Linked DNA regions of Homo sapiens. The protein of the gene in region 3 interacts with the protein of the main gene of each other region in a pairwise test. Each region holds a gene or a part of one and is shown on either strand. Other genes may lie near its edges. The genes, in order: TRAF3IP3, ABHD16A, CBARP and SLC35F6.

Evidence for each region.
Region 1: the proteins of CBARP (region 3) and TRAF3IP3 interact in binary tests that used the Homo sapiens proteins (3 or more experiments, as listed by UniProt).
Region 2: the proteins of CBARP (region 3) and ABHD16A interact in binary tests that used the Homo sapiens proteins (3 or more experiments, as listed by UniProt).
Region 4: the proteins of CBARP (region 3) and SLC35F6 interact in binary tests that used the Homo sapiens proteins (3 or more experiments, as listed by UniProt).

What each region holds. Positions count from the first base shown.
Region 1 is NC_000001.11:209,766,043-209,773,062, reverse strand, and holds part of TRAF3IP3 (TRAF3-interacting JNK-activating modulator), read right to left. Parts: intron 4,499-7,020; exon of another isoform or gene 4,403-4,498; intron 116-4,402; coding exon 44-115; intron 1-43. UniProt on the Homo sapiens protein: Adapter protein that plays essential roles in both innate and adaptive immunity. Plays a crucial role in the regulation of thymocyte development.
Region 2 is NC_000006.12:31,693,323-31,700,342, forward strand, and holds part of ABHD16A (phosphatidylserine lipase ABHD16A), read right to left. Parts: intron 3,712-7,020; coding exon 3,626-3,711; intron 111-3,625; coding exon 37-110; intron 1-36. UniProt on the Homo sapiens protein: Phosphatidylserine (PS) lipase that mediates the hydrolysis of phosphatidylserine to generate lysophosphatidylserine (LPS). LPS constitutes a class of signaling lipids that regulates immunological and neurological processes.
Region 3 is NC_000019.10:1,228,006-1,235,025, reverse strand, and holds the end of CBARP (voltage-dependent calcium channel beta subunit-associated regulatory protein), read left to right. Parts: coding exon 1-25; intron 26-283; coding exon 284-455; intron 456-694; coding exon 695-835; intron 836-1,389; coding exon 1,390-1,600; intron 1,601-3,750; coding exon 3,751-3,925; coding exon of another isoform or gene 3,926-4,133; exon of another isoform or gene 4,134-4,883; coding exon 4,884-5,847; 3' UTR 5,848-6,739; downstream 6,740-7,020. UniProt on the Homo sapiens protein: Negatively regulates voltage-gated calcium channels by preventing the interaction between their alpha and beta subunits. Thereby, negatively regulates calcium channels activity at the plasma membrane and indirectly inhibits calcium-regulated exocytosis.
Region 4 is NC_000002.12:26,759,409-26,767,292, reverse strand, and holds the start of SLC35F6 (solute carrier family 35 member F6 precursor), read right to left. Parts: upstream 3,010-7,884; 5' UTR 2,944-3,009; coding exon 2,867-2,943; intron 1-2,866. UniProt on the Homo sapiens protein: Involved in the maintenance of mitochondrial membrane potential in pancreatic ductal adenocarcinoma (PDAC) cells. Promotes pancreatic ductal adenocarcinoma (PDAC) cell growth. May play a role as a nucleotide-sugar transporter.

The DNA.
Region 1 (7,020 bases), on a different chromosome or scaffold from region 3:
AATTCTAGATTCCTGAGATGGAAGTATCCTTCAGAATGCTTACCTGGGTACAGGTGTATAGCTGGTTTTCTAAGGATCTCAGTTTCCCCTTCAGTTTGTCTTCATTAAGCTGTCCCTGGAGCAAATGGGATGAGTTAATGAGCTTGGGGCAAAATCTAGTCTGCAAAGAGTTTGACTCTATATTCCTATTCTACTGCCCAGCACATGGTTGGTGCTCAAACAGTGAACTCTTTCAGGAGGCAGGCAGGAGCAAAGATGACAAAGGATGCTGGATAGAAGAGGATCTTCTCCTGTTTCTCTGGACTAGGACAAGAAAGAATAAGACTGGCCTCAAGTCCTCTTTTTACCTCGATTTTTATCAAATGGCTCAGGGTAGCATAGCAGGGGGGCCCCGGAAGGAAAGCTTCTAAGCTACCCTTTCGCTCACTATCTCCCTCCCCTGTCTAGGCACTTCTGCACTCCTCACCTCTTCTCAGTCTTGTACGTGGACTTTTCCCTGTAAAATGTAGGCCAGTGAGGCTAACGCAGTCTCCCCTCCCGGGAGAATGTTTATTCCCTCCCTTGCCCTCGGTTATGAGCTCATTTATATCTCCTCAACATTTCTATGTTGAAGTCCTAAGCCCCGAGTGCCCCAGAATGTGACCATATTTGGAGAAAGGGTCTTTAAAGATGTAGTTAAGTTAAAATGAGGCCATTAAGCTGGCCCTAATCCAATATGATGGATGTCCTTATTAAAAGAGGAGATCAGGGCACTGCAGGAAGGCCATGTGGAGACACAGAGAGAGATGGCAATCTGTAAGCCAGGAAGAGAGACCGCAGGAGAAACGAACTCTGCTGACACCTCGATCTCAGACTTTTAGCCTCCAGAACTATGAGAAAATAAGTTTGTTTTTGAAGTTCCCCTGACTGTGGTACTTTGTCATAGCAGCCCTAGGAGATTAATACACTCCCCTCCCTGCCACACACACCTCCACATGCACACACACACCTCCATATACACACACCTTCACATGTGCACACACACCTCCACATGCACACGTACACTTCCACCTGCACACATACACTTCCACCTGCACACACGTACCTCCACCTGCACACACACACCTTCACATGCACACGCACACCTGCATATGCACACGCACACCTCCATATACACACACACCTTCACATGCGCGCACACACCTCCACATGCACACGTACACTTCCACCTGCACACACGTACCTCCACCTGCACACACACACCTTCACATGCACACGCACACCTGCATATGCACACGCACACCTCCATATACACACACACCTTCACATGCGCGCACACACCTCCACATGCACACGTACACTTCCACCTGCACACATACACCTCCACCTGCACACACGTACCTCCACCTGAACACACACCTTCACATGCACACCTTCACATGCACACGCACACCTCCATATGCACACGCACACCACATGCGCACACACACCTCCACATGCACACGTACACTTCCACTGCACACATACACCTCCACCTGCATACACGTACCTCCACCTGCACACACACACCTTCACACACACCTTCACATGCACACGCACACCTCCATATGCACACGCACACCTTCACATGCACACACACCTCCACATGCACACACCTCCACCTGCACATGCATACCTTCACATGCACATGCACACTTCCACCTGCACACACACCTCCAGCTGCACACGCACACCTCCACATGCACAGATACACCTCCACATGCACACACACACCTTCACATGCACACGCACACCTTCACATGCAGATGCACACCTCCGTAGGGACACACACCTCCACCTGCACACACATACCTTCACATGCACACACACACCTTCACATGAACACGCACACCTCCACATGCGCACGCACACCTCCACATGCACACAACCTTCACATGCACACACATCCATATGCACACGCACACTTCCACATGCATGCACACTTCCACCTGCACACACACACCTCCACCTGCACACACACCTCCACATGCACACGCACACTTCCACCTGAGCACACACACACATCCACATGCACACGCACACCTCCACCTGCACACACACACCTCCACATGCACACGCACCCCTCCACATGCACACGCACACCTCCACCTGCACACGCACACCTTCACCTGCACACGCACACCTTCACCTGCACACGCACACCTCCACATGGCACACACACACTTTCACATGCACACACACACTTCTATATAGACACACACCTCCACCTGCACACACACACCTCCATATGCACACACACACACCTCCATAGGCACACGCACACCTCCACCTGCACACGCACACCTCCACCTGCACACGCACACCTCCACCTGCACACACACACCTCCACATGCACACACACACCTCCATATGCACACACACACCTTCACATGCACATGTGCACCTCCACCTGCACACAACTTCCAGCTGCACACACACCTCCACATGCACAGATACACCTCCACATGCACACACATTCTACCTGGACACACACACCTCCACCTGCACACGCACACTTCCACCTGCACACACATACTTTCACATGCACACGCACACTTCCACATGCACACACACACCTCCACATGCACACACATACCTCCACCTGCACACACACACCTCCACATGCACACACACACCTCCACCTGCACACACACACCTCCACATGCACACGCACAATTCCATCTGGACATACACACTTCCATCTCCACACACACACCTCCACCTGCATACATACATTTCCACATGCACACGTACATACTAGACTCAAGATGAGAACTTCTTTAAGAAAGCAAGAAACGGAGAGATATTAAAGCAGAGTGAGGGCGGCAGGGGGTGTAAGGGAGCTTCCCAGAAAGTCACATTCTATTTATTCATAAGCTGGGGCTGTCTAATGGTATTTTCGACATTCCAAGAAAGATGCTAATCTCAAGGGCGAGAGGGGAGCAAGGCCGGCATGAAGAGCCAATCTGTTTCTCGGTTTTTCAGTATTTCAGCTTAGTAGCTACAGCTTCCCTGCCACTTTTTTGTCCCCTCCCTTTGTAGACTTGCCCCTTTTGCCCAGGTAGGGGTTTTGTTCTTCCAGCCTGGAGTTTTGTGTAGGGTGTATCTGTGTAGGGGAGGGGGCGGAGGAGCCATCAATGAGAGCAAGTTTTCCAGAGAAAGGGCAGTGACCGGTTTTCCTATCTTTTCTCTGGCTTTTTCCAACCAGGCCAAGTGGGACGCTTGTGAGGTCTTGAAATTCCACCTCTCTTTAGGCCCGAGACGCCATGGGCTCTCTCAGCCAGATGGCCTGGACATTTCCATCTCTTATAACATTTCCGGTTTGTAATGGTCTGGGGGTAGAGGAGGGGGCTCGGCTTTGAGGTCCGCCTCCCTCAGTGAGTTTCAGGGTGCCTGGGAGAGGCAGGAAGTGGTATCTCGCAGCTCCTGTTTTGATCTTGTTTGGCTTATTCTTCTAACCATGGGAGCCAGGGGGTGCCCCCACCCTTTCAGCTTCCTGTGTTACTCAGCTGGGGCTTGCAAAAGCAAAAAGTGTTGCCAAAAATAATTTTTTAAAGTGCCTCCTGCTATTAATGTTTTTCCTAACGTCTCATGTGAGGGAGAGCAGAGAGTCAGGGATTTGGCATCTACAATAAGCAGAGGGCTTTGGGACCGATGGAAGACGTGGACAAAGACTTCTACTGTTTGAGCTTTGAAGTAACTGGTAAAACGGCTGCATTCCACTGTGGCCTGTTCATTGTCAATCCACAGGTCCTGAAATCAACTGGCTCTACACCTACCTCCTCTGGTTCACATCTTCGGTTCCACACATTTGCCTTTGCCCAAACTCTTTCTATGCAGAATGCAATCAAACCTACCAAATTTAAGGTTTATCTTGCTGTATTTTGGGAATATAGCAGGCCTAAGGCAATATTCTTAAAATTTTCCCAGTCTCCTACCCTTTTGGGGTACCTCCTCTCTCCCCATTCCATAGTATGGCTTTAATCCAATATTTTGCCTCTTTCAACTGTTTTTGTATTGGCCCAACCCCAAATTACTTTTCCATTCGTGTTGCAACGGAAGACAATTTACCATAGCCACTTCAGTGGGGATGAAGGGCCACCCAAGTCTGGAGCTTGAATGAAACCTCTTTCCACAGCTCTGCTTTTCTGGACTCCCCAAAACGTCATAAAAGTCGCAGCCAAGTTGTTGCAAATCGGGCATGTAGTTTCCTGGTCTGAGCCCCAGGGTCCCCCACACTGAAGCCCAGTGTTACAGTATGTGGGAAGAAGCACTTTTTACAGGCCTACTGCTGACATTCTAGGCAGTTAGACCCCGGGAGCCGAGGGCTCAGAGGGCATATAAACCCCAGTGAAGAGAGGAGCAAGGCGGAGGCCATACACACCTGGTGCCGGTCTGAGGTCTTCAGCTCCTGCTTCTGCGTGGTTTTCCCCTGCCTCTGATCTGCTCTCCAGAAACACCACCACCTCACCACAGAAGCACCAGCCCACAGCTCATCTCTCTGCTCTAGTAGAGGTTGCTTAGGGCTTCAGCCAATCCCCGCTGCGCTGTCATCTCAAGATCTTAATTCCAGGACGCAGATCTTCAAACCCAAGGCTGCCCTGCTCTCGTTTTTGTATTGCACAATATTGAAAGCTTGCTTTCTCTGCTAGTAGAGCTGTTTCTGCCCTGAAGGTTGGACCCTCCTCAGGAGTCTCAATAGTGCCCCAGAGCCTATGGTATCCAAAAGGCCCAGAGACATCCGGAGGTGAAGCCAGCGGAGGGAGCTGATCCTTGGGATTCTAATAGGGAGTTTGTGGTAAGTTCTCAGCATGTGAAGTTGGAAATTCAAATTTATGAAGGTCAAATGGCAAAAATAAAGGTCTGAACCAGTTCTGGCCACTTTCTTCCAATTATTTTTCCCAGATACCACAGTTTGGGGCTATACTTTTATTGGAGTTGAGGCTTTCATGGAAGAGATAGAGAGTTGAATTACCTTATTTTAGGGGAAACAATAGCTGTTAACTGAAAAAGTCTGAGACTGTTTTTCTTTAAAACTGGAAGCTAGGGGGTTGGTGGGGAGGAGGGACAAAGAAGAGAAGGGTGAGGATTGGGAGGGGTGAGAAGAAGGGAGGGAGGAAACCACAACCAAGGGAACTTCTGCTCTTGGGCTGGAGCATGGGGTGAAACTCCTCCTTGGAGACAAACCCAGAAATGTCTCTTAATATATCCCCCCTCATTCCCACAAAGCTTGCTTTGATTCAAGCTCTGGTTGTGTCTTACCTGGGATATTACAAGAGTCTCAACTCCCCCAACCCCTGCTTGGAGCCAGGGTTCTTATTGCTACAAGTTAGATAATCCTTGAACCCTCCCCCCTCTTTTTTTTTTTTCAAGACAGGGTCTTGCTCTGTTACCCCATGCAGGAGTACAGTGGTGCAGCCTGGACCTCCTGGGCTCAAGCGATCCTCCTGCCTCAGCCTCCCAAGTAGCTGTGACTATAGGTGTGTACCACCATGCATGGCTAATTTTTTTATTTTTAATAGAGATGAGGTCTCACTATGTTGCCCAGGCTGGTCTTGATCACTCAAGTGATCCTTCTGCCTTGGCCCCCCAAAGTGTTGGGATTACAGGTGTGAGACACTGCATCCAGTTGGAAATTACAGAACTTTTTAAGACACAGATCTGATCATTCACAAGTCATTTCCTCAGATAGTAATTGCATACCTTCTAAGGATGAGCCAGACATTGCTAAGTGTAGGACTTTATACCTCAATAAAGCATAGTTCCATTCTTACTCAGCTTATTACCTATAGCAGTGTTTCTCAAGCTGGGTAGCATGCATTCTAAAGGATCTCTGATTTTATATATATACATATATGGGTTTCCTTTAAAAATGGGTCCATGCATTATTCAAGTTTGAGATACCTTGTTCAACAGAAAAAGTTTAAGACCCATAATTCTAAAGACCTGTCTGAGATCCTTTCTTTGGTACTACTCTGGCATACCTTCATTTCAGCCATACTCTGCTATACCCAATTCTTTGCCATACATAGGCCTGTAATCATTCCAATTCCTTTACCTTAAACACTCTTCTACTTTCTGCTTTTTTCCCTCATCATCACTCTTGCTTCTCTACTGGTTAGCTCCTACTCATCCTTCAAGATTCAGCTAAAATGGTTTCTTTCCTTTATTTTTATTTTTTGAGACAGAATCTTGCTCCGTCACCCAGGCTGGAGTGCAGTGGCACAATCTCAGCTCACTGCAACCTCCACCTCCTGGGTTCAAGCAATTCTTGTGTCTCAGCCTCCTGAGTAGCTCGGACTTCAGGCATGCACGATTACGCTCAGCTAATTTTTGTATCTTTAGTAGAGACGGGTTTTCGCCATGTTGGCCAGGCTGGTCTTGAACTCCTGGCCTCAAGTGGTCCACCTGCCTTGGCCTCCCAAAGTGCTGGGATTATAGGCATGAGCTGCCGTGCCTGGCCAGGTTTCCTTCCTTTAAAGCCTTCCCTGTTCCACCTCAGGTGGAATAATTGCTGCCTTCTTTCTCTTTTTCCTGCATCATGCTTTATGCACTGCTGCTATAGCCTTATTATACTGTTTTGGTGTTATTTATTACATGTCTCTGTCTTCATGGCTGGACTGTGAGCTCCTCAAGAGTTAGGACTGTAATGCTCTTTGCCCCTGTAGCACAAGGCCCAGCACAGAGTTGGAACTTATCAAATGACTGTCAAACAAATGAGTGAGATGATCTCAATTTAGTTCAGGACCAGAAACCACCTCACGTGCACAGCTGTCTGCCCCAAGTTCCTGCTCTGTCAATGAAAATGACCTAACAATCAGGAGCTCTGACCACAGATTGAGAAATCCAGGTACAATGTCTGACGTGAGGAGCAGGGCTGAGCTTAGGAAATCTTTTTTACATCACTGCAACTTCTCAGTTTTGTTCCATACTCTCCCATCATCTTTCTTTCTCTGCTCAAGCCATCTTCAAGGTAGGGTGAGATGTCACACAGGCCGGTGA
Region 2 (7,020 bases), on a different chromosome or scaffold from region 3:
AAGGGGAGAGATACAGCAAAAGAACTGGGGCCTCACCGGCTGCTGGGTTCTTCCCAGTGGAAGTCGACTGGCCAGCTCCGGAAGTCAAAGTTGTAGTTGGCAAGCTGCCTCTGCAGTGGGCACGAGAGGCAAAGGGGTACTGAGAACTCAGGGGAGGCTCTCCTACCCACCCTCAACAACACCTTCGTTATCCAGGGGTCTGATCCCCACACATCATGGGGAAACCAAGCGGAGGTCAATACCCTCCCAATTCTCAGATGGAAAATTCTAACAGGACCAGAAAATCAGGGGAGATGGTATGCCCCATCAGGTATCAGGACTGGCCTGTCTGCCCTCTTCCAAGCTAAGAACCTAACACTCTGCTTTTCTAAAAAACTAAGTCTGACCCATCCCCAGGAGGAGTGGCTGAAGGTGCTAGTGCTTTTGAGTGACGGGTAGTAGGGGTCGCTGGCTGGTCACGGTCTATTCCCCACCTGGGTCCCTTATAGGGTGCTGTCTTAGAAGCTTAGAAATCTCCCAGCAGATCACACTGACAGACCCAAGGTTGAGTGAGACAGAGAGGAGGGAAGTCACGCCCACAGTGGGCTCCTCTGCCATGTGGGGCCACCCGTTGAAGGAAGCTCTGACTTCCATCCTCACAACTACATCCCTTCCTCAACTCCTGCAGCCATGGATCAGTGTTGCCCTACAGCCCATCCGAACCTCGGGCCACCCCACTGAGCCAGTCCACATGCCTTTTTTTTTTTTTTTGAGGCAGGGTCTCGTGCTGTTGCCCAGGCTGGAATGCAGTTGGTGCAATCATAGCTCACTGCAGCCTCAAACTCCCAGGCCCAAGTGATCCTCCTACCTTAGCCTCTGGAGTAGCTGGGACTACAGACATGTGCTACCATGCCCAGCTAATTTTTAAAATTTTCTTTAGAGACAAGGTCTTACTATGTTGCCCAGGCTGGTCTCCAACTCCTGGGCTGAAGCGATCCTCCTGCCTTGGCTTCCGAAAGTGCTGGGATTATAGGCATGAACCACCTCACCAGCTCCACGTTTTTTGACGGCAGTGGGAGCTGTGTCTTTTTTTTTTTTTTTTTTTTTGAGATGGAGTCTCACTCTGTCGCCCAGGCTGGAGTGCAGTGGCACGATCTCGGATCACTGCAAGCTCTGCCTCCCGGCTTCACGCCATTCTCCCGCCTCAGCCTCCAAGTAGCTGGGACTACAGGTGCCTGCCACCACCATGCCCGGCTAATTTTTGTACCTTTAGCAGAGATGGGGTTTCACCATGTTAGCCAGGATGGTCTTGATCTCCTGACCTCGTGATCCACCCGCCTCGGCCTTCCAAAGTGCTGGGATTACAGGTGTGAGCCACCGCGCCCGGCCTAGCTGTGTCTTAATACTTGACTATATTCGTCCCCCACCCCCTGAGCTCCTAGCACTCTATTTTGAGGGTTTTTATTTTCTGCACAGAAATTTTTTGACATTTCAAAAATAATTTGACTAACAGAGAGCAATAGAAAAATTATACAAAAAGGTAAATGGCAAAACAAAACAAGATGACTAAAAGCAAATTTCAGGCAGGCTTTGCTCAGACCTGCTCTCAAATCTGGACTTAGCCACTTTCTTGCTCTATGACTCCGAATGGGTCACTTAACCTCTTTTTGCCTCTGTTTTCTCACATTTACAAATAAAGGTAATAATGCCACCTCACTCAGCTGTTGTGAGGATCAGAAAGGGTGTGTGCCAAATGCTTCAGCCAGTAGCATAGTACAGGGCATCATTACGCAGCTCCATAGTGTGGAGTAGCCAGGAATGTGATGATGGTGGTCATAGCTGTTTGATCCTAGAAACCTCCCATAACAGAAAAGAGCTCTATGGGGCCCCAAAGCCCATCCTCAAAGATAATCACAGTCCAGCACCAGCCGGCTTGGCATAATTCCCAAGACACTGAGCCCTAGCTTTTCTCCCTCCTGGCACCATGCTGTACTCCCAGGCATAGGAGTGGACACACCTGTCCACCTTGTCCCATCCACAAACAAGGATAGCATGGTATTCAATGCATACAACAAAATTAAACATTTATAGAACTGAGCTGCTGTGATACAGAGAAAACTACCTTCTAAGAAACATTGTGGGCTGGGTGCAGTGGCTCACACCTGTAATCCCAGCACTTTGGGAGGCCAAGGCAGGTGGATCACCTGAGGTCAGGAGTTTGAGACCAGCCTGACCAACACAGCTAAACCCCATCTCTACTAAAAATACAATATTAGCTGGGCGTGGTGGCGCATGCCTGTAATCCCAGCTACTTGGGAGGCTGAGGCAGGAGAATCGCTTGAACCCAGGAGGCGGAGGTTGCAGTGAGCTGGAATCATGCCATTGCACGCCAGCCTGGGCAACAAGAGCGAAACTCCATCTCAAAAGAAAAAAAAAGAAACACTGTGGGCCAGGCACAGTGGCTCACACCTATAATCCCAGCACTTTGGAAGGCCAAGGCAGGCAGATCGTCTGCAGTCAGGAGTTCAAGACTAGCCTGGCCAACATGATGAAACCCTGTCTCTGCTAAAAATACAAAAATTGGCCAGGCACGGTGGCTCACGCCTGTAATCCCAGCACTTTGGGAGGCCGAGGCAGGCGGATCACAAGGTCAGGAGATCAAGACCATCCTGGCTAACATGGTGAAACCCCGTCTCTACTAAAAATAAAAAAATTAGCCGGGCGTGGTGGCAGGCGCCTGTAGTCCCAGCTACTCAGGGGGCTGAGGCAGGACAATGGCATGAACCCGGGAGGCCGAGCTTGCAGTAAGCTGAGATGGCGCCACTGCACTCCAGCCTGGGCGACAGAGTGAGACTCCGTCTCAAAAAAAAAAAAAAAAAATTAACTGGGCGTGGTGGTGTGCACCTGTAATTCCAGCTACTCAGGAGGCTGAGGCATGAGCATTGTTTGAACCCGGGAGTTGGAGGTTGTAGTAAACTGAGATTGTACCACTATACTCCAGCCTGAGTAAGAGTGAGACTCTGTCTCAAAGAAGAAAAAAAAAAAAAGAGGCCAGGAGTGGTGGCTCACGCCTGTAATCCCAGCACTTTGGGAGGCTGGGGCAGGCAGATCGCCTGAGGTCATGAGTTGGAGACCAGCCTAGCCAACATGGTGAAACCCCGTCTCTACAAAAAATACAAAAATTAGAGGGTGTGGGTGGTGCGTGCCTGTAATCCTAGCTACTCAGGAAGCTGAGACAGGAGAATCACTTGAACCTGGGAGGTGGAGAGTGCAGTGAGCCGAGATCGTGCCATTGCACTCCAGCCTGGGCAACAAGAGCGAAACTCCATCTCAAAAAAAAAAAAAGAAAAAGAAAAAAGAAACATTGTGGAATGTTTCTAGTTTAGCCAGTTCTTACAGGTGAGGGAGGGGGAAGATTGTTCTAGCAGAATATTCCATTAGAAGTGGTAGGGAGGAAAAATTCCTCAGGTGGACAGTTCACTAATGGAGGTGAGAAGGGATACAGCAATGTGCAAGCAAACACCCAGTGTGGTGGGTGGTAAAACACACCTCCTCTTCCTGCAGAAGCCAGTGTCTGGTGCTCTGAGGGACAACTGAGAAAGCTGCTATTGGGTGCCTGTGTGGCACTTTTCCTAGGGCCTCTCACCTTGTTTTCTGAAGACTGGTTCCGATGTGTTGCTTCCAAGATGGTGATGAACTGCCGGTACTGGGGGTTGGTCCAGCGGCCAATGCCTGGTAGAAAAAGGACAGGAAACAGTGCTAGGAAAACTGGGAAGCAGAAAGCCTAGGTTTTAGGAAAAGAATTGGAGATGGGCTAGAAGAAGGCCCTGTAAGAAAAAGTGAAAGAAAAAGGAACTGAGGGCATAGGATGCGGAGAAATAGATGTGAGCCAACCCCCTTCCTCCAAATCCAGCAACTGGCTACAGGACGCTTCTTCTCCCTAGCTTCTGCAGTTTGTGTCTTTATAGACAATCCTTAACCTACCATCTTCCAGAATGTTCCTCTTCCTCAGTCTTTAAACACTGTCATATAACCTATTAAATGACACTATTAAACACTATCATATAATACTATTCTCCCTTGCGAATATCAAATTTCTCTATTTTTCACTGCCATTCTTCTCCAATGTTTGCTTTCTGCCTCTTTTCTGTATATTCTAGCCCCTTGCCATCTGGCTTCAGAGTCTCCGACTCCTGCCCATAATTACTTCCTCACTGAATTCCTGACTCTTCTATCCTCATTCTCTTCAACTGTACTACTCAGCATTCTCCCTGTCCCTCAAGATTCTTCCTGCCTCTGCTTCCTGGGCCCATCCTTGACTCCTTCCAGTTCCTGAACAGTTCCTCTCCTGCCTCCTTTCTGCTTTCCTTTCTGAAGCAGAAGCAACTCTCAGTGCTGACTCTCTCTCCTCTCTCTTTTCACTTACACAGTCAGTGATTGCATCCACTCTCCTTTCACTGCTGAGCCACCTCAAACCCTAACTTCTCTCCTCACTGACTTGGCAGGTGTCGTGTGTCAGACAGGCACCGTACTACACACGGGAGACTCAGCAGGAAATGAGATACACAGCTCCTGGCTCTCAGAGAGCTGGCATTCTGGTTGGGGTTAGGTACAGCCAGGAGAAGACAATAAACAACATTTCAGAGAGGGATAAGTGCTACAGAGAAAATACAACAAGAATGAACCAGAACTTTATGTGTCATCAATGGTATTCCCCCAAAACGATATGATGAGAGAATGATGTGTGCTGCAGAATGATTTGTACAACATTTATGCCAAAAATGTAAAATGTGCAAAATAATACATACTGCTTATAGATACCATATTTCATAGATTCTAAAATGTATATTTTTTAACCCTTGAAAACTCTGAAATTAGAATTCATTTTACAATTGATGGCAGCTTAGACTTGAGGAACTGAGGTATATGTTTCATAAAAGTATGTGCCAGAAAAAAAAAAAACCCACACCAAATGACAATTATTACTTCTGAGGAAAGAGGAAGATGGGACTGAAAGGATTCCAATGGGAACTCCAACCCTAACTGTGGTGCTTTAGTATTTTGTTGACAGAAAGCATTTAAAGCAAATATCACAAAACTATATATAAAAAAAAAATCACAAAACTATACATCAAAAAATTTAAAAAGGCTTTTATATTTTGTTCTCTGGACTTTTCTGTATTTTTTCTTTTTTCTTTTTTTTGAGACAGTTTTGCTCTTGTTGCCCAGGCGGGAGTGCAATGATGTGCTCTCGGCTCACTGCAACCTCCGCCTCCCGGGTTCAAGTGATTCTCCTGCCACAGCCTCCCAAATAGCTGGGATTACAAGCGCCCGCCACCATGCACAGCTAATTTTTTCTGTATTTTTTCTAAATTAAAAATAAATAAAATAAAAAACTAAGACAAAACTGAGCAGTGGGAGCTACTTTTAGACAGGGTGGTCAGGGAAGGCCTCTCTGAGGAGAGAGCCCAGCCCTGCAGAGATCAGGGGGCAGAACACCTCAGGCAGAAGGTCCTGGACCCAACTGCGACCATCCAGCCCTGACCCCACCACCCCCATGTTGAAGCATCGCCCATCACCTGGTTGTCATCTTATGTACCCACTAGGGGTAGGTGATCTGTCCTCTTTATTTTTTTAAATTGCGAGATACAACATATGTACATAAAACATATATTCAGTTTAAAAAATACAAAGCAAACATTCATGTGACTATCACCTAGGTCAACAAAGAGAACACAGCCACCTCTCAGCAGGGCTCTCCCCCACTCTGTTCTCCCCCACCCCAGGTAATCACTCTCCTAACTTTTGAGAAAACCATGCCCTTGCTGGGCGCGGTGGCTCAAGCCTGTAATCTCAGCACTTTGGGAGGCCGAGGCGGGTGGATCACGAGGTCAGGAGATTGAGACCATCCTGGCTAACACGGTGAAACCCCATCTCTACTAAAAAATACAAAAAAACCTAGCCGGGTGTGGTGGTGGGCGCCTGTAGTCCCAGCTACTCGGGAGGCTGAAGCAGGAGAATGGCGTGAACCCGGGAGGCGGAGCTTGCAGTGAGCCGAGATCGCGCCACTGCACTCCAGCCTGGGGGACAGAGCGAGACTCCGTCTCAAAAAAAAAAAAAAAAAAAAAGAAAACCATGCCCTTGTTGTCTTCGGTGTTCTACCTCAAACATGCACATCCCTTTTGAATTTTATATAAATGAAAACATACTGCATACATTATTTTGTGGTTAGCTTCTTCTATTTAACACAACATTTGAGAAATTCATCTGCATTGCTTTTGTTTATCTGGAGACAGAGTCTCGCTCTGTCACCCAGACTGGAGTGCAGTGGTGCTATCTTGGCTCACTGCAACCTCTGCCTCCCAGGTTCAAGCAGTTCTCATGCCTTAGCCTCCCAAGCAGTTAAGACTATAGGCATGTGCCACCATGCCCAGTTAATTTTTTGTATTTTATTTTTTCTGAGATGGAGCCTTGCTCTGTTGCCCAGGATGCAGTACAGTAGCGCAATCTTGGCTCACTGCAACCTCTGCCTCTTGGATTCAAGCAATTCTACTGCCTCAGCCTCCCGAATAGCTGGGATTACAGGTGCTCACCACCATACCTGGCTAATTTTTTTTTGTATGTTTAGTAGAGACGGGGTTTCACCATGTTGGACAGACTGGTCTTGAACTCCTGACCTCTGGTGATCTGCCTGCTTCAGCCTACCAAACTGCTAGGATTACAGGCATGAGCCACTGCACCTGGCTTCATCTGCGTTGTTGAGCGTAGCTACAGTTTGTTCATTTGCATTGCTATATAGTGTTCTCTTGCATGGCTATTGCATGGAACTTTTTTTTTTTTTTGAGACGGAGTCTTGCTCTGTTGCCCAGGATGGAGTGCAGTAGCGCAATCTCGTCTCACTGCAACCTTTGCCTCCCAGGTTCAAGCTATTCTCCTGCCTCAGCCTCCTAAGTAGCTGGGATTACAGGCACGTGCCACCATGCCCAGCTAATTTTTGTATTTTTGGTAGAGACGGGGTTTTACCATGTTGGTCAGGCTGGT
Region 3 (7,020 bases):
GCAAGACGCAGGACAAGGGTCGCCGGTAAGCGGGGCGGCGTTGGGAGGCACCCCAGGGCCTGTCTGAGGTCCTGGCCGCCGGGACGGGGGAGGAGCTGGGTGCGGAGGCTGCAGGGACCAAGGCAGAGGCTCCTGGACTGGGACCGTGGGGTGGGGCGGCCTTGGCCAGTTGCCCCCCTTTCGCCTGCCCCTGCCCAGGCCGGCAGGGTGGATGGCAGAGCACGGCAGCTGGGGCATCGGGCATGGGAGGTGGGCGGGCTCTGATGGCCAGATGCTGTCGCAGGTACACACTGACGGAGGGGGACTTCCACCACCTGAAGAATGCCCGGCTCACGCACCTGCACCTGCCGCCCCTCAAGATTGTCACCATCCACGAGTGTGACTCAGGCGAGGCCAGCTCAGCCACCACGCCCCACCCGGCCACCTCTCCCAAGGCCACTCTGGCCATCTTCCAGGTGAGCCTATGGGCAGCAGCCCCGGTTCCTCGGGGGACGGGAGGCAGCCCCGGGGACTCCCGGACCCCCACGCCCTCACCCACTCTTTTTCTGGGTGGCCCTCATCTCGGGATGGGCGGGGTGGGGTGGAGCAGGGCAGGGGGCCAAGCCCAGCATGCTCCTCACCTGCCCATGTCCCTCACCCACCCATGCTCTTTGACCTGTCACTGCTTCCTCCCCCACCTGGCTCTGTCCCACAGCCCCCGGGGAAGGCCCTCACCGGCCGCTCTGTGGGCCCCAGCTCCGCCCTGCCAGGTGACCCCTACAACTCAGCCGCGGGCGCCACTGACTTCGCAGAGATCAGCCCCTCGGCATCTAGCGACTCTGGGGAAGGCACCTCGGTGAGGGCCCCTGCGTGTCCCCCATGGTGTCCACAGCCGGGGAGGCTCCTTCCCCTCCCTGTCCCCAGTCCAGGACCAAGGTCAACCTATGACCTGCCAGCCACCGCAGCCCTCCTTGGCCCGCCGGGTCATTGCACACGGGAGAAAGAGGGAGCCGGCCGCACACCGGACACAGGCGTGTCCTCACACATGCAGGGGGCACCCCAGGCTCCCACCTCATTTGACATTCCCTAGGTTCTGGAGAGGGTGCGCCACCCCTGCCCTCCCTCACCTGCAGCCCACGCCGTGGGCGAGAGACCTTCTAGACACGCACCTCCTTTTCTCTCCAAACCCCATATCCAGGGACCTTCCCCAGAGGGCAGAGCACCTTAGTGTAGCCCACCCAGCCACTGAGCGCCCCTCCTCCCGCTTCTGCCCCTCTCCGAGCAGGTACCCCTCTCTGTCCCAGTGATGGGGGGCCCTTGGGACTGTCTCTCAGACCTACGGCCACCTGGGGCCAGCACACGGGCCCAGGAAGAAGTCTTAGCCTGAGCGCCATCTCTGTTCCCTGCCAGTTGGATGCCGGTACCAGGAGCACCAAGGCTGGAGGGCCCGGGGCTGCAGCAGGGCCTGGGGAGGCGGGCCCGGGATCCGGGGCAGGTACCGTTCTGCAGTTCCTCACCCGCCTGCGCCGCCATGCCAGCCTGGATGGGGCCAGCCCCTATTTCAAGGTCAAGAAGTGGAAGCTGGAGCCCAGCCAGCGGGCAGCCAGTCTGGACACGAGAGGTGAGCTGTAGCACCTGGTGGAGAGTGGGCCCCTGTGGGCTGGGTGCTGGCTGCCAGGGGCTGCCCTGGACATCCAGGAGCAGGAGGTTGTGGGCTGGGTGGGGAGCCGGTGCTCTGGGGCTGAGTCCTGCCCAGTCTGCCAGCGGGCGTGCTGCCTGAGGTTCTGCAGGTGGCTGGGAGGGCTGAGTGTGCGGGCGGCCTGAGCCAGACCCACCCAGCTCCGGGAACCTGTGCGGGAAGGCTTTGCGCGCCCCGACTGCTCTCGGGCCATTGGGGCATCCAGGATGAGGTGGTAAAGGAGGGTGTCGGGGGCCACCTGGTCACTGTGGAGCGCAGAGGGTGGGGCCTGTGGCCTGCATCCCCTCCCAGCCATGCTCGGCTCTCATCCCTGGGAATGTGAGTGGAAGGCGGGTTCCCCCGGGGCCCCTCCCTCGCCCGCTGGCAGACCATCAGCTGCTGTGTGACCTTGGCCGAGGCCCTCTGCCTGTCTGGGCTCTGACTTCCTCTAACACGAAGTAAGTGTTGGACTGGGCCAGGGGTCAGCAGACTTTTCCCATCAGGCCCCGGATGGTGGTGTTCGTGGGGTTATGGTCAGAGAGGCTGTGTCTCCACAACTCTGCTGCTGTTGAGGCGAGGAAGCAGTCAGAGGCGCTGCATGACGAATGCACGTGGCTGTGTGCCAGTAAAACTTACCGAAGCTCCGGGGCAGGGGGTGCTTTTGCCCTCTGGGCTGTAGCACATAGATCCCTGGACTGTTTGACAGTAGCCCTTCAATTCTGCAGGCCTTGGGTCAGGCAGGATCCTGGAGACAGGGCTGCCTTATCTGGGCTCGAGGCAGGAGTTTGTGTGGGGAGCAGAGGTGTCCCATCTGTAGCACTGGCAGCAGGCACCAGCCCTGCTCAGCCAGCTCAGCAGGGCCAGGGCAGCCCAGAGGGGCTGGGGCCCGCTCTGCCTTGTGGACAGGGTGGCAGGTCCTGTCGTCAGGTGAGGCCAGGATAGGGGACAAGTGCAGAGAGAAGGTGCTGTCAGCATGACAGAGGACACATCATCAGACAGTGGGAGACCCTGTGTTGTGGCTCCAGCCAGCGGGGGTGGGGTGAGTTCTCCCAGCCCCCACCCCCAAGGTAGCTAGGGGCCAGGGAGGGGAAGGCCTCCTCTGGCTGCCCCGCTCCAGCTGAGAGAATCCAGATCTTGAAATGAATGGGGCCCAGGGGTGACTAGAGACATTTAGAGTCCAATGTGGTTGCAGCACATCCCAGAACCTGTTTGCTGGGGCCTGCCCACTCAAGCTTTGCTGGGGAGGCTGTTGGGAGAAGGGGGCCGAGGCAGGGGTGGGGCAGTCCCCCAGCGCTCTCCAGACCAGGGTGGAGCTGGCAGGAGAGGGCACCTCTCTCCCTCTCCTCGTTGGCCCCCACCAGCCTGTATGTGACTCTCTCATGCCTTCCGTAGTTTCAGCCAGGCTGTGCAGGCCACCAGGTGTCCAGGACACGCCCTTATGAGTGGCCACATGTTGACCAGGGCTGCCACAAGGCACTATCGGTGCCAGAGGCCCTTCCACTCACTCGCTTCCTGGCCCTGCCCTGCTCAGGCTCTCTGGTCCCAGCACCTCTTCCCTCCGTGCCTCAGTTTTCTCACCTGTACTCCAGGGTGTACACACAGCCACTGTCCGCACCCACCTGACCCGGGGAGATGCCAGCCAGGGTCTGGCCCAAGCCAGGGCCCACTCCTGTGTGTGTGAGACAGAGACAGGGCACACGCGTTGTGTGTGTGTGGGGGCCACAGGTGTTCTGTGTGTAGGAGGGTACAGGCATTCTGTGGGGGGGGCACAGGCATGGGGGGTGCACAGGCGTTCTGTGGGGGGGGCACAGGCGTGTGTGTGTGAGGGGGCCACAGGCGTTCTGTGGTGGGGGGCACAGGCGTTCTATGTGTGTGTATGGGGGCCACAGGCGTTCTGTGTGTGGGGGGGGCCCAGGCGTTGTATGTGTGGGGGGCACACGTTGTGTGTGTGTGGTGGGGGTCCACAGGCGTTGTGTGTGGCGGGGGGGCACAGGCATTGTGTGTGTGTGGCGGGGGGGCATAGGCATTCTGTGTGTGTGTGGAGCGGGTGGAGGCACATGCCGGCTGACGCTTACGGCACATCCCGTGCGCAGGTTCCCCCAAGCGGCACCACTTCCAGCGGCAGCGGGCAGCCAGTGAGAGCACGGAGCAGGAGGAGGGGGATGCCCCCCAGGAGGACTTCATCCAGTACATTGCCCGGGCGGGCGACGCCGTGGCCTTCCCGCACCCCCGCCCCTTTCTGGCCAGCCCGCCCCCTGCTCTCGGCAGGTATTTTTCAGTAGATGGAGGTGCTAGGGGTGGACCTGTGGGCCCTTGCCCCCCTTCGCCCCCCCCTAGGCGGCCCAGGGAGCGCTCTCCAGGCCCCGTGGACACGCGCTCGCCTGCCTCCAGCGGCAAGGCCCCTCCCAGAGGCGGACTCACTGGGGCCACCTCTCCAGCATGGACCAGAGGAGGGAAGCAGGGAGAGACTGGGTAAGGGTAGGGCGGTGGGTGGGGAGGAGGGGCCCCCCGAGGATGGCGCTGGTACTGCTGCTTGCTGGTGGAGTCCGAGGCCTGAAGGGTTCTGCTGTGGTCCCAGGCCCTCTCCCACCCCCGCCCCGCCCATGCTCCCAAGGCTGGGCAGACTCCTCTCAGAAGCTGCTGTGACCACTCCGGCCAGCAGCACCCCTCCCCCAACCCAAGGGCAACTTCCCTGAAGCCCAGGGCCCACGTCGGTGGGATGGGAATGGGGCGTGGGGCTGGGGCAGAGCAGGGTTCCTGGGGCAGCCCTGGTATGGCGGGTGACCCTCACGTCTGTGCACTGTCCTCCTGCTGGTTATCCAGCATGGGTGGGCAGAGAGCCCTAGCCTGGAGCAGGGGCTGAGCTGGACTCAACCGCGTCCAGTCCATCCCCTGCGGCTCCCACGTCCACTGGGAGGCTGGGAAAACGTGACTCCCGGAGAGAAGCATGTTGACTTTTCCTGGGGGCTTCCAAGGGAGGGGGCCCCGCCGTCTGCAGTCCAGCATGGAGGCACCCTGCTTAATAAGCAGGCGCCACAGCTCAGGGTCAATGCAAGACGCATCCCCTGCAAAACACACTGGCTCATTTTAAAGCTCTCACCTTCCAAGGCCCGCCCGAGTCCCAAGTCCCACCCGCGTCCACCCTCCCTGATCCAGAGGCGGGATGGCCGGCCGGGTAGGGGGCGCGGGGCTCGGCGGGGCTCTGACGGCGCGGCCTGGCTTGCAGGCTAGAGGCGGCCGAGGCAGCGGGAGGAGCGAGCCCCGATTCCCCCCCGGAGCGCGGCGCGGGCAGCGCGGGGCCTGAGCAGCAGCAGCCGCCACTGGAGCCGGACGCCGAGCGGGACGCGGGCCCCGAGCAGGCCCAGACCAGCTACCGCGACCTGTGGAGCCTGCGCGCCTCGCTTGAGCTGCATGCGGCCGCCTCGGACCACAGCAGCAGCGGCAACGACCGCGACTCGGTGCGCAGCGGCGACAGCTCGGGCTCAGGCTCCGGGGGCGCGGCGCCCGCCTTCCCGCCGCCCTCCCCGCCCGCGCCGCGGCCCAAGGACGGCGAGGCGCGCCGGCTGCTGCAGATGGACAGTGGCTACGCCAGCATCGAGGGCCGCGGCGCAGGCGACGACACCGAGCCACCTGCCGCGCCCGCCCGGCCCCGCAGCCCGCGCGCCTGGCCCCGCCGCCCGCGCCGCGACTACAGCATCGACGAGAAGACGGACGCGCTGTTCCACGAGTTCCTGCGCCACGACCCGCACTTCGACGACACGCCGGCTGCCGCGCGACACCGCGCCCGCGCGCACCCGCACGCCCGCAAACAGTGGCAGCGTGGCCGGCAGCACAGCGACCCCGGCGCCCGCGCGGCCCCGGCCCTGGCCGGAACCCCGGCACCGCCTGCCGGCGCGGCCCGACCCGCGCGTGCGCCCTTGCGGCGCGGCGACAGCGTGGACGGCCCGCCCGACGGTCGCACCCTGGGCGGCGCCGGCGACGACCCCGCCATCCCCGTCATCGAGGAGGAGCCGGGCGGCGGGGGGTGCCCCGGCTCGGGCCTGTGCGTCCTACCATCCGGGTCGGTGCTGGACAAGCTGGCGGCTGGCCTCGACGAGAGACTCTTTCCGCCGCGCCTCGCCGAGCCCGTCGTGGCGACTCCCGCGTTGGTCGCCGCCGCCCCCACGTCCCCCGACCACAGCCCGGCCTAAGTCCCGCGTCCTGGGCCCATCTCTCTGGCAGCTTCTCCGGCGCCGCACGGGGCCTCGGCGGCGGGAGAGACGTGGGGGCGCGACGCCCCGACGCGAATGCGCGGGGACCGCGGGCCCTTCGCGCACGCGCCGGGCGACGGAGGCGCGCTCGCCGCTTCAGGGCGCAGGCGCAGAGCCCCGGCCGCCCTCGCGCCGCCGAAGTGTGCACTGCTCTTTCCGGTGCTTGCCGGGTGCTGGGCGTCGTGAGGCGCGGGCCGCGGAGACCCCGGCTGGGCGGGAAGGAAGGGGCGTGAACGGCTCTCAGCTTCGGGCTCCTGAGGACAACGATCACTCGCCCTCAGTCCCGGACGGGGCGGCCGCTTAGTCGCAGGGCCCGCCACCCGAGGGTCGCGCAGCCCACTGGGCCCGATGGAGCCGCCGCGTGCCGGGCGCGTGCGCGAGCTCGCCCGGGCGGGGGCCGCGGGGCGCTAACGGTCGCAGACGAGTTCGCCGCCCTGGGCCGGGAGGCGGCTCAACACCGTGACTGCCGACCTCCGAGACCGTTTACCTCACTGCGGCGTGTGCTGGCGGCAGCCCGCGCCGCCTCCGAGCAATAACCGCGCCGCCACCGCTGCTGCCGCCGGCCCTGAGGGAGCCGGCCCCGGCCCTCCCGCGCCCCGAGTCCCCACTGCCCTCCGCATGTCAACGGCGCCCGCCCCGCTGCCGCCCCATCCACGTTGAGACGCGAACAAAACCCAGACGGCCAGGTCCAAGCTTCCCAAGCTTTATTTATTGCCAAATTTGGGCGGCCTCGCCCGCACGGCACCCTCCGAGTCCCCGCCGCGTCTGCACCATCCCGCGATGGCGTTTCTCGTGTTTTTCTTTTCTGGATGATATAAATATTGACCGCACACTCCTGCTTGCTCCGGGTTTTCTCTGGGGTCCCAAGAGCGCAGTGGCCTTGGGGGAGAGGTGAGGGTCCTGCCCTCCGGCCGGGCCGCCAAAGCAGGGTGACCCGAGAGCGCAAAGGCGGCCGCGACGTGAGCCCGACCCCACAGCCCCCCTGCCACCCAGCAGCTCCCAAACACCCCTCACAGCCACAGCTCAAATCCACCTTTTATTTTTTCTTAAAAAAAAAAAGAAAAAAAGAAAATGGAACCAACCAAACAAAAAACCAAAGCGGCCGCGCGGCTT
Region 4 (7,884 bases), on a different chromosome or scaffold from region 3:
GGGCTGGCTGAGAGGCTGGCAGCCCAGTCCTGGAGAGAGGCACATCAAAGGCTGGGAGCGCAGATGCCACTTACAGGTTTACAACTTCCACAAGCACAGGCTTCTCTGTCCTGGCCTGGGGAGCTGTGAGAGGAAACTCCCAGGAAGGAGGGACTCTGGGGTATCACAGTCATAAAAGAACAGGACTTAAAGTCCTGAGGCCTGGGTTCCAGCCTTCATTCAGACACCAAACAGTTGAATCACAGAAAGAAACTTCTCCTGAGGCCTCCTTTGTAAATTGTGGGGATTAGACTGGATGATTTCTATGCTTTTAACAACTCTAAATGACCCCAAAATGACTGGAGAAGTCCCCAGCCACACCCTCCAGTGGTGGTTAAGAGCATGGATGCTAGAGCCAGACCATGCTGGCTCAACTATAAACTCTGCCACTTAGTAGCTAAGTTGAACTTGGGCAAGGAATTTAATCATTTCCTACCTCAGTTTCCTTATACAGGAATATCAGCCCCTGTCTTTGCCTGATAGGGTGGTTATGAGAATTCCCTGAGTTCACACATGAAAGGGCAGAGCAGGGCCTGGGGCATGCGAGGTGCTCTTTGTGCATGAGATGCTTCTGCTAGTTGTCAGCACATGCTTGTCTGTCTGTGCCTGCTGGAAATCGTGGGTCAAAAATGTGATTTCCTTTTATTTTTTTTTTTGAGACCGAGTCTCACTCTGTCACCCAGGTTGGAGGGCAGTGGTGCAATCTTGGCTCATTGCAACCTCCGCCTCCCGGGTTCAAGCAATTCTCCTGTCTCAGCCTCCCAAGTAGCTGGGACTACAGGTGCGCACTACCACGCCCAGCTAATTTTTGTATTTTTAGTAGAGATGCAGTTTCACCATATTGGTCAGGCTGGTTTCAAACTCCTGACCTCAAGTGATCCAGCCGCTTCTGCCTCCCAAAGTGCTGGGATGACAGGCGTAAGCCACCGCGCCGGGCCAGAAATGTGATTTCAAATCCATACTTCACATCGGGGTGCATGCAGCTGCTCCCACATGTTCTTTCTCCCTAAGAGTATCCCTTCTTGTGGTTTGACCTTAGAACACTGTTTAGGGTCCAATTTGGGGGCCCATCTTGGGGTGGGAGGATCCTGAGAGGCCCCACACCAGCTGTCAGGCAGGGGACAGGACCAAAAGTTGGGTCTGTCACCTGGGAGCCTCTTTCCTGACTCTCAGGCAGCCTTTAAAGGCGACGCCTTCTGGGATTGAGGATCTCTAAGCTTCCTACCTGACTGGTTTGGAGTTTTCTAAGGAAGGAGGTGAATCAGCACAGTTTACCCCAGCAGTAACTGGCAATCTGGATTCTCCTTGTGGGCAGCAGCCCTGGTGGACTTACAACCGCTCTCTAAGCACTTGACAGAGGCCCTGGCTGGCATGACAGAACAGAAGACTTGCTTTGCTGTGTTCAGATCCTGAGATGGGAGCCCTCAGGCTGGGGCCTCTGAACAGCTAAGGATTCAGCATGAGGAGTGATCCTCAGGAGGATGCAGGGCCTGGGAAGCTAGTAGTTCTCCACAAGGCACAGTTGGCCAGAGGTGAACCAGAGGAACAGGTGGGGCCCACCCAGGACTCCACTGACTGTGCCCACCGTTTGGGGAAGGGAGAACACTGTGACTGTCGTGTGCGTACACGTCTGTCTCCTCCACCTCAGATTCCAAGCATCTCAAAGGCAGAGATCGCCTCTTGGTCACTTCTGTCCCCTTCCCTTACACACCGTAGGTACCTTATACATGGGATCGTGCCATTGCACTCCAGCCTGGGCAACAAGAAAAGGAGGGGCAGGAAGGCCCTGCCCTGAGATGGAGACAGAGAGAGACAAAGAAATGCCATCCTGCCCACAACAGAGGGGAGGCTAGGCCCTGTCCCTCAGTCTCATGACTGCCTGGGTCCTTAGTCCCTAACCTCCTGGGAACTGTCCCCCCTCTCACCCCCATACATCAGAGCTGAACTGGCCACTTGCCCTCTCTGTCTGAGTTAATGGCACTTTTCTTCTCCCAGGCAGAAACCCTGGAGTGATCCTTGTTTCTTGCTCATGTGGGTCAGGCCTGTGGCCATTCACACCTGGTCTCTGCCACCAGTTGTCCCTTCCTTTCTCTTCTCACTGCCACCTCCTAGTTCCCCTCATCTGCTATGCAGCAGCCTTGGAGTGGTTTTTCCTGCACCAAACCACTCCTCATGTCATTGAGTCAATCATATCACTTTCAACATGTCATTCCCCAGCTCAAAAGCACTTTTCTGATTATGAGAGAAAATCTAACCTGGGCATTTGATGCTGGTTACAATCGACTTTGATCTGGCCTTTCCGTAGACTTTCCTTGACTTACAGTCTCAGACACATTCCGAAATCCCACCTAAGCTTCAAAGCACAGCTCTAACCCCTCATCCTTGAGGGGCCGTGGGGCACCTCCCTGTCTGCCGCTTGAGGCCTCCACGCTCACTGGGTCACTCGGCCTGCACAGCCACTACTGCGGCTCATGTGCACAAGTCCAGGGGTCTCTCCCAGCTCGTGGAGGGAGGTGCTCAGGCTTGGACGCCAGCACTGGAAGGGCCGTGGAAAGGAATCGGCCAACCCTCCTGTTAAAAGACGTGGAAACAGGAGCGGAGGCTGTACAGCAAATCAAAGCCGGGGCTCGGATCCCCCCGTCCGGGGCGCAGCCCCGCTCCGCATTTCCCCGGGCCTCGCATCCCTTGGGTGGTCATAACGCGCGCGAACTGACCGGAGCAAGTGGGAAAGCAGGGGAAGCCAGGAGGGCAGGGCCAAGAAGGGGGAAGGCGTAGAACGAGCGCCGGGGTCGCCAGGGCCCGCACGCCCGGCAGGGCCCAGACTCACTTTGCCGAGAGCGTGTTGATGGAGCCGGTAACAAGCATGAGCCCGGCCAGGAACAGCTGGTACTTGGTCCAGGCCATGTCGGCGGACGCTGGGGTTCGCTCCAGTTAGCGGCGCCGGGCCCCGTCACCCGGGGTCTCCTGCGCGAGCGCTTCCGGGCCGGGCGTCACGTGACCCCTCCTGCTCGCCCCGCCCCCGGGGAGCGCGCCTGAGCCACGGTGCCCGCGCTCTGCCGAGTCGTCCTGGAGCGCTTTGGTGGCCACGCCGTGGCCCTGGCAAATCACGGCCCAGGCCTTCCAGTTTTTTTTTTCTTTTCTTCCTCACTCTCCCCCGCCTTTTTGGGTTTCTTTTTTCTATTTTTTTGAGAAGGAGTCTCACTCTGTCGCCCAGGCTGGAGTGCAATGGCATGATCTCGGCTCACTGCAATATCCGCCTCCTGGGTTCAAGCGATTCTCCTGCTTCAGCCTCCCGAGTAGCTCGGATTACAGGCGCCCTTCACCACGCCCGGCTAATTTTTTGTATTTTTAGTAGAGACAGGGCTTCACCATGTTGGCCAGGCTGGTCTCGAACTCCCGACCTCAGGTGATCCGCCCTCCTCCGCATCCCAAAGTATTGGGATTACAGGCGTGAACCACCGCGCCTGGCCTTGGTTTCTTATTTTTATCTTTGGGTCTTCCTATTTGTAAAAGGGGCGGATGGGACAGTGCAGTGAGGGTGCATCGTGGCTATTACAGCATTTTGTGAATCGTTTTGAGAGGTTGAGCTGGGCGGTGTCAGAAAGGAGCCCTGAAGTGGGCCTGCCGGGAGTTCCTTGGGGACCCTGTAGAGAGGAGATTCCCACGCTGGACGTTTCCACTTCGGGGCTCCTATCTGATACCGCCCACCTTGGGCACAGTTCATATCTTTCAGCAAAGTGGCGAAGGCATCTAGCTCCAGTTGCCGAGGACACCATTTTATAGCTGAGGACAGTAAATTCAGCGAAGCAGAGTGATTTGCTTAAGAACCTGCTGGTGAGCAGTGGGGTAGGGATTTGCGCTTGGGTTCTCCAGTCTCCAAAAATCCGTGCCTTCCGCATGGCCTCTGCACCAAGCCCTGCTTCACTGCTCCTTTGTGGACTTTCTGGTCGCAGCTGAGGCATCCAGGCAGAAAGACCATCCCTAGGTTTGTTTGAAGAGGGTGTTGACGAAGAGTCACACTCTAAAATATTTGAAGGGATTTATTCTGAGCCAAATATTTGTGACCATGGCCCGTGACACAGCCCTCAGGAGGTCCTGAGAACATGTGCCCAAAGTGGTCGGGGCGCAGCATTTTAGAAAGACACGAGACATCAATCAAATACATTTAAGAAATACATTGGTTTGGTCCAGAAAGGTAGGACAACTCAAAGCCGGGAGGAGGGGAGAGGGTGGGGCAGGAAACGGGAAAAATATCTATCTATGTTAATAGAGATTTTTGTTTTTTTTTGAGACGGAGTCTTGCTCTGTCGCCCAGGCTGGAGTGCAGTGGTGCGATCTCGGCTCACTGCAACCTCCACCTCCCGGATTCAATCAGTTCTCTGCCTCAGCCTCCCAAGTAGCTGGGACTACAGGTGCCTGCCACCACGCCTGGCTAAATTTTGTATTTCTAGTAGAGATGGGGGGGGTCTCACCATGTTGGCCAGGCTGGTCTTGAACTCCTGATCCACCTGCCTCGGCCTCCCAAAGTGCTGGGATTACAGGCGTGATCCGCCACGCCCGGCCGGTAATAGAGATTCTTTACAGATGCAAATTTTCCCCCACAAAAGACAGATTTGCAGGGCCATTTCAAGATATGGCAAAGAAAAATGTTTTGGGGTAAAATCTTTTGACTTTCTTCTTAGTCACATAATATTATGCCAGAGTCAGATTGGAAAGTAAGTCATGATATATAGGGTTAAATAAAACCCATCTGATGAGAATTTATGGTTTGTAGGGCATGACTCTCCAGACCTCTTAGGTAGGAATTTGGGCAAGGTAAAAAAAATCAGAGCTTAGTCCTCAAGGGGTTCTGGTGTTTAAAATCCTACTCTTGGCTGGGTGTGGTGGTTCACACCTATAATCCTAGCACTTTGGGAGGCTGAAGCGGGCTGATTGCTTGAGCTCAGGATTTCCAGACAAGCCTGGGCAACATGGCAAAACTCAGTCTCTACTAAAAATGCAAAAATTAGCTGAGTGTCATGACAAGTACCCATAATCCCAGCTACTCAGGAGGCTAAGTAGGAGGATCGCTTGAGTCCCTGGAGGTGGAGGTTGCAATGAACTGAGATCATGCCACTATACTCCGGCCTGGGTGGCAAAGTGACACCCTGTCTTAAAAAAAGAAAAAAAAAAGGCCAGGCGCGGTGGCTCGCACCTGTAATCCCAGCACTTTGGGAGGCTGAGGCAGGTGGATCACCTGAGGTCGGAATTCAAGATCAGCCTGACCAACATGGTGAAACCCCATCTCTACTAAAATACAAAAAATTAGCCAGGTGTGGGGGTGCATGCTTGTAATCTCAGCTACTCCGGAGGCTGAGGCAGGAGAATCGCTTGAACCTGGGAGATGGAAGTTGCAGTGAGCCAAGATCGAGCCATTGCACTCCAGCCTGGGCAACAAGCGCGAAAACTCCATCTCAAAAAAAAAAAAAAAAAGAAAGAAAAAGAAAAGAAAAAACTGCTCCTAATATGCCTTTCCCAGTGCTCTAGTCTGCACCCATGCCCTGTCACGCCAGCGACAAGATCCTTTTGTTACCAGAAAGGGGTTCTGATCCAGACCTCAAGAGAGGGTTCTTGGACCTGGCACCTTGCGGGGAATCCATAAAGTGAAAACAAGTTTATTAAGAAAGTAAAGGATAAAGAATGGCTACTCCATTGGCAGAGCAGCCCCGAGGGCTGCTGATTGGTTATTTTTATGGATATTTCTGGATTATATGCCAAACAAGGGGTGGATTATTCATGAGTTTTCTGGGAAAGGGGTGGGCAATTGCCAGAACTAAGTGTTCCTCCCCTTTTTAGACCATGTAGGTTAACTTCCAGTTGCTACCATGGCATCTGTAAACTGTCGCGCGCTGGTGCGAGTGTCTTTTAGCATGCTAATGCATTATAAATAGTGTATAACAAGCAGTGAGAAAAACCAGAGGTCACTTTTGTCGCCATCTTGGTTTTGGTGGGTTTTGGCCGGCTTCTTTACTGCATCCTGTTTTATCAGCAAGGTCTTTGTGACCTGTACCTTGTGCCCACTTCCTATCTCGACCTGTGACTTAGAATGCCTAACCTCCTGGGAATGCAGCCCAGTAGGTCTCAGCCTCGTTTTACCCAGCCCCTGTTCAAGATGGAGTTGCTCTGATTTAAATGTCTCTGACACTTTGGAAAACGACTTCAGACCGAGCCAACACACTTCCCCTATGCTGCAGATCTTGTTTCTGTGGTGAGAAAAGAACTTTTACCTGAGGAATGCGAGTCCTGTAAGTTATCAGGCCCAGAGAGACATTAAAATAAGACAGCAATCACGTCCTACTCCCACTTTGAGTTATGTATTTATGTCTTGAAACTGCTTGCTATTGCCACAGGTAGCTATAACCTAACAATGCTGCACTGGACACCATATCTTACATCCTATAGCACTGTACAGCCAATCACTAATCAATGTTATTTCTGTAAACCAATGAGAATTTCTGACAAACAACTTTGTATCAGCCCACTCCCTGTCCTCCTTTTTCTGCCTTTAAAAACCTGTTTGTAACAAAGAGAGAAGGGAGCTCACATCCAAGATTACTTGCGTCTGAGTCTTTTGGGCAGCTGTCCTCATTTTGGCTCAAGTAAACTGTTTAACTTATATTTTGTGCCTTGGCACCTTCTTGTTTTTTTTAAGATGAAGTGGTGCTCTGTCGTCCAGTCTGGAGTGCAGTGGCACATTCTTGGCTCACTACAACTTCTGCCTCCCAGGTTCAAGCAATTCCCCTGCCTCAGCCTCCCGAGTAGCTGGGATTACAGGTGAGCACCACCATGCCCAGCTACATTTTTTGTATTTATAGTCGAGATGGGGTTTCACCGTGTTGGCCAGGCTGGTCTTGAACTCCTGACCTCAAGTGATCCACCCACCTTGGCCTCCCAAAGTGTTGGGATTACAGGTGTAAGCCACCACGCCCAGATGGCTAGCAACTTCATTTTAGATGAACAGGAGGTGGCCCGTGTGGTGGCTCACACCTGTTATCCTAGCACTTTGGGAGGCTGAGGCCTCCTAATCCCAGGAATTTGAGAGCAGCTTGGGCAACATAGCCAGACCCTCATCTCTACAAAAACACTTAAAAATTAGTCAGGGGTGGTAGTGCGGGCCTGTGAGCCCAGTTACTGGAGAAGCTGAGGCAGGAGGATTGCTTGAGCACAGGACTTTGAGGCTGCAGTAAACCGTGGTCATGCCCCTGCACTTCAGCCTGGGCAACAGAGCAAGACCCTATCTCACACACACACAAATTTTTTAAATTAAACAAATAGATCAACAAGAGGTACAGAGATAGGACCTGTCTGCCAACTCCTCCTACTTGCCCTAAGACAGCCTCGAACTTGTGAAAAAGGCCAGAGTGGACGCAGAACTCTCAAGGGGCTGCACCAGACTCCCTTATTGCAGGAAGACCTGCTGGAGAAGGTGTATAAGTGGGATCCTGGAAAAAACATAGGAGGTCCCCAGATAGACAGCAGAAGGGCTTTCTTGCAGATGGACATGGCATGTACAGCGGTGCAGAGGTGTGAGTGTGGAACAAGCCTGGGACCCACAGAATGTTCTAGAATTTTCTTTAATTGGAGCCTCTTCTCCTTTCAGTCAGTGCGGAGTTGGAAGACCCAGAAGAGGTTTCTTCTGAACTTTTTTTTTTTTGAGATGGAGTCTTGCTCTGTTGCCCAGGCTTCTCCTGCCTCACCCTCCCAAGTAGCTGGGAGTACAGGCGTACACCACCACACCCAGCTAATTTTTGTATTTTTAGTAGAGACAGGGTTTTACTGTGTTGGCCAGGCTGGTCTCAAACTCCT